Regions from separate parts of the Homo sapiens genome. Here region 2 is linked to region 1. A link means that fine-mapping ties the variant in region 1 to the expression of a gene that starts in the linked region. Tissue or cell type: whole blood. Region 1 holds a variant in brackets; the other region holds the start of a gene. All regions are shown on one strand. Distances are between the middles of the regions.

Evidence for each region. PIP is the estimated chance that this variant, and not a neighbour inherited with it, causes the effect.
Region 2: it holds the start of CD47, and the variant in region 1 is fine-mapped to the expression of CD47 in whole blood (TOPMed, PIP above 0.99).

What each region holds. Positions count from the first base shown.
Region 1 is chr3:108,042,538-108,045,298 of GRCh38, reverse strand. CD47 (CD47 molecule) reads left to right here. Exons shown (of 11, transcript NM_001777.4): 11 at 1-2,208. Among named protein-coding and RNA genes, the nearest start is that of CD47, 47 kb to the left of the region's middle. The variant T/G (reference allele first, on the strand shown) is at 1,428.
Region 2 is chr3:108,089,722-108,092,221 of GRCh38, reverse strand. It overlaps CD47 (CD47 molecule), which reads left to right and starts at 1,191. Exons shown (of 11, transcript NM_001777.4): 1 at 1,191-1,359. The coding sequence starts at 1,314. RefSeq lists silencers at 578-637, 648-697, 718-1,467.

The sequences.
Region 1 (2,761 bases):
TAGAAAAGGTATGAAAATCTTTATAGTAAAATTTTTTATAAACTAAAGTTGTACCTTTTAATATGTAGTAAACTCTCATTTATTTGGGGTTCGCTCTTGGATCTCATCCATCCATTGTGTTCTCTTTAATGCTGCCTGCCTTTTGAGGCATTCACTGCCCTAGACAATGCCACCAGAGATAGTGGGGGAAATGCCAGATGAAACCAACTCTTGCTCTCACTAGTTGTCAGCTTCTCTGGATAAGTGACCACAGAAGCAGGAGTCCTCCTGCTTGGGCATCATTGGGCCAGTTCCTTCTCTTTAAATCAGATTTGTAATGGCTCCCAAATTCCATCACATCACATTTAAATTGCAGACAGTGTTTTGCACATCATGTATCTGTTTTGTCCCATAATATGCTTTTTACTCCCTGATCCCAGTTTCTGCTGTTGACTCTTCCATTCAGTTTTATTTATTGTGTGTTCTCACAGTGACACCATTTGTCCTTTTCTGCAACAACCTTTCCAGCTACTTTTGCCAAATTCTATTTGTCTTCTCCTTCAAAACATTCTCCTTTGCAGTTCCTCTTCATCTGTGTAGCTGCTCTTTTGTCTCTTAACTTACCATTCCTATAGTACTTTATGCATCTCTGCTTAGTTCTATTAGTTTTTTGGCCTTGCTCTTCTCCTTGATTTTAAAATTCCTTCTATAGCTAGAGCTTTTCTTTCTTTCATTCTCTCTTCCTGCAGTGTTTTGCATACATCAGAAGCTAGGTACATAAGTTAAATGATTGAGAGTTGGCTGTATTTAGATTTATCACTTTTTAATAGGGTGAGCTTGAGAGTTTTCTTTCTTTCTGTTTTTTTTTTTTGTTTTTTTTTTTTTTTTTTTTTTTTTTTTTTTTGACTAATTTCACATGCTCTAAAAACCTTCAAAGGTGATTATTTTTCTCCTGGAAACTCCAGGTCCATTCTGTTTAAATCCCTAAGAATGTCAGAATTAAAATAACAGGGCTATCCCGTAATTGGAAATATTTCTTTTTTCAGGATGCTATAGTCAATTTAGTAAGTGACCACCAAATTGTTATTTGCACTAACAAAGCTCAAAACACGATAAGTTTACTCCTCCATCTCAGTAATAAAAATTAAGCTGTAATCAACCTTCTAGGTTTCTCTTGTCTTAAAATGGGTATTCAAAAATGGGGATCTGTGGTGTATGTATGGAAACACATACTCCTTAATTTACCTGTTGTTGGAAACTGGAGAAATGATTGTCGGGCAACCGTTTATTTTTTATTGTATTTTATTTGGTTGAGGGATTTTTTTATAAACAGTTTTACTTGTGTCATATTTTAAAATTACTAACTGCCATCACCTGCTGGGGTCCTTTGTTAGGTCATTTTCAGTGACTAATAGGGATAATCCAGGTAACTTTGAAGAGATGAGCAG[T/G]GAGTGACCAGGCAGTTTTTCTGCCTTTAGCTTTGACAGTTCTTAATTAAGATCATTGAAGACCAGCTTTCTCATAAATTTCTCTTTTTGAAAAAAAGAAAGCATTTGTACTAAGCTCCTCTGTAAGACAACATCTTAAATCTTAAAAGTGTTGTTATCATGACTGGTGAGAGAAGAAAACATTTTGTTTTTATTAAATGGAGCATTATTTACAAAAAGCCATTGTTGAGAATTAGATCCCACATCGTATAAATATCTATTAACCATTCTAAATAAAGAGAACTCCAGTGTTGCTATGTGCAAGATCCTCTCTTGGAGCTTTTTTGCATAGCAATTAAAGGTGTGCTATTTGTCAGTAGCCATTTTTTTGCAGTGATTTGAAGACCAAAGTTGTTTTACAGCTGTGTTACCGTTAAAGGTTTTTTTTTTTATATGTATTAAATCAATTTATCACTGTTTAAAGCTTTGAATATCTGCAATCTTTGCCAAGGTACTTTTTTATTTAAAAAAAAACATAACTTTGTAAATATTACCCTGTAATATTATATATACTTAATAAAACATTTTAAGCTATTTTGTTGGGCTATTTCTATTGCTGCTACAGCAGACCACAAGCACATTTCTGAAAAATTTAATTTATTAATGTATTTTTAAGTTGCTTATATTCTAGGTAACAATGTAAAGAATGATTTAAAATATTAATTATGAATTTTTTGAGTATAATACCCAATAAGCTTTTAATTAGAGCAGAGTTTTAATTAAAAGTTTTAAATCAGTCCAATGTGTTTCATAATTATTTTTTAATTTTCTCCATGGTGCAGTGAAAACATCACATGAGAAAGCAGGAGACCTGGGTGCTAGTCCTGGCTACACTACCAGCTAGCAGAGGACCTGGGAAAGCTACTTCCCTGGATCTCAGTGTCCGTCTCTGCCTGTAGAATGAGATAAGTCTCTTCAAGACTGAAATGTATGGTTCTCCATTTTAATTATCAGTTAGGACTATTGATTACAAGTGAAAGAAAACTTAAATCTAAGAAAAATGGGATCTATTGGCTAACATAACCTGAAAATTCAGACACACAGCTGGATCCTGGGCCTCCAAAAAGTGTCATAAGGACACAATATCTTGCCAGTTCTCAGCTTCACTGTCCTTCGTGTGGCTTTACTCTCCCAGGTTCCTGTGATGGCAAATGGCAAGCTGCAATCCCAAACCCATTTTCTTCCAGGTTCAGGGAGAGTAGAGGGGTAAAAAAGAGCGCATGTCTCTCTCTTAATAGTCCTGTCCACCTTGGGTTGCACCTCACCTCGGTGCTCTGACTGGGTCACGTGCCATG
Region 2 (2,500 bases), 47 kb before region 1:
TATTGTGGTGGGAAATTGCTTTCTTTCCCAGGAGGTAGGAGGAAAACAATCAAGGAGGTGGACAGGATGTGCACTCCATTAGAGCAGCCACCAGAGCCTGACTTTTTGATAAGAGAGTACATCAGTTAGGATAACGGTTAAAAGTATCTTTAAAAGACTTTTGCTTCAGGATGAATGATGTGGCCTGTGTGATTCAGCGATAAATTCAAAAGCCTTGTCCCTATTGTGGCTTGCGGCCACATTTCGAACCCATTTTTCAAGCATGTTAAACCCAAGCGCAGCGCAGAGGGCTGCACATGGGGCAGTCACAAACCAAGCTCAATAACCTTGCTGGTGGGGATGTGTTGGATACGCTGCTAATGCCTGTTTGCGACAATGCTCGCTAGTCCCGGTGGTGGCGGTGTTCACAGGTAACAATGTTTACCACCGTGAATGGAACTTGTTTGATTAACCCTGATCAGAGGATGAAAACACTAAAGAACCAAGTGAGAAAGAGGGAAGAGAACCGCATAGGGAAGAGCAGAGCGAGTAGACGAGCCGAACGCAGAGCCCGCGAGGGGCGAGTGGAAGCTCCCTGCGGGCAGGTACCCGACCACCGCCCTGCCCTGGGCGTGGCGGCCTCGGGCTCAGGGACCGCTTCGGCGCTAGACGGCCGCGTCCGGAGGAAACGGGCGCTGGTGAAAGCCTAGGTGTCCTGGTCCACGCGCGCAGCCGGACGTCGGGTCCAGGGAGAGACGCGGGCTGGGGCGGGACGGGACCCGGCCCCTGAAGCGCGAGGGTGGGAGTGAAAGCAAAGAGGAGAAAAGTAGAGAGAGAGGACAGTGGGGCCCAGCGCCGCGCGAAAGGCAGGAACCGACCCGCGGACAGGAACGGGTGCAATGAGGTCCCCGGCGAGCGTGGGAACACAGGGTTCAGCCTCCTGCGGCGGGCGAGCACGCGGACCCCAGGGGCGGGCGGGTGCGACAGGACGTGACCTGGAAGCGCGGCGCGTGCCACCGCCCTGGAGCAGGCATCCGGCCTCCGTGGAGCGGGCAGGCGGGCCCCGGGTCTGGAGCCTGCGACTGGGGAGGGCGCCGCGTCAACAGCAGCGGTTGCGGGGCGGGGCCGAGTGCGCGTGCGCGGCTCTCGCGGGCGGGGAGCAGGCGGGGGAGCGGGCGGGAAGCAGTGGGAGCGCGCGTGCGCGCGGCCGTGCAGCCTGGGCAGTGGGTCCTGCCTGTGACGCGCGGCGGCGGTCGGTCCTGCCTGTAACGGCGGCGGCGGCTGCTGCTCCGGACACCTGCGGCGGCGGCGGCGACCCCGCGGCGGGCGCGGAGATGTGGCCCCTGGTAGCGGCGCTGTTGCTGGGCTCGGCGTGCTGCGGTGAGTGGCTCCTCGCTCCCAGCCCTGCGGCTGCTGTCGCTTCGCCCCCGCGGGCGTGTGGGCTGCGCCCCAGCCAGCCCGGCGGCGCCCTGAAGAGGGTGGCCGGGGCGCAGAACACTCGGGCCCTGAGCGCCCGAAGTGCAGACGTGGGAGGGCCCCACGGGGAATCGGGCGCCCCCCTTCTTCCTCCCTTCCTTTCCCTGGTCGTCTTCTTCCCCCTGGGTGAGAGCGGGGCTCATCTCCTCCACCCGGTTCTCCATCTCCAAATGCACACACACAGGAAGACTCCAAACCGCGCACCTCGCGCAAAAATTAACTAGCAAGAAAGGGCGCGATCAGAGGCAAGGGGCTGCAGCTGCTAGGGATCCCCTTCTTTCGCACCCCTCTCCCTTCTCAGTGCTTAGACGCATTTGGGGTTGAGGGAGGGAGAGTGGGAGGGCCCGGGCCTCTTGCGATGGAAGTGCGCATTTTGGCGAAGTCGGTGAGAAGGGGTTTCTGCCGTTTGCCTCCCACATGAACATAGGAGCGAAGAGGACGTAAAGGACACAATTAAGTTTCATTTTCAACTCAGCATTCAATCAGAAGAATCTTCCGGCCGTGTAATTTTTGCTGTCGTTTTTAATCCTAAAAATAAGCTTGCTGGAAACTCTTCCTTTCTCGTGACCCTCACGCCCCATCAGCCACTTGCATACATTCTAAATTGTACGTTGAAGTTTTTCCCACTTTATTTGGGGGAACCGTTTTAAAAGTAATCTGGTTTTCGCCTGAAATAGGAAGACAGTAACCTCCAGTCAAAACATGTGCAGCAGAATGGGATTTGGTGTTTTTCGACGCCAAAGAACCTCCACCCCCCCACCCCCACCCCGAGCTTTTGGAATCCATTTCGCTTTTGTAAAACGTGTGCTTCGTCTGTAAAAACTGAGCAAGGAATAGAAACATTCGTAGCTCTACAGTGAGTGCCTGTCACACTTCACATCCATAGAGCCTTTTGTGAACTTTTATAAGATTCAGAATTCAGCTTGAGCACCAGTGACAGCAATTGTTACATTTATTCTAGAATGCTAAATTAATTCGATTTTAAACTGATTATTAGCCTCGGTGTGCCGTTCCTAAAGGCTTGTGACTTTAGGTATTTCCAAGA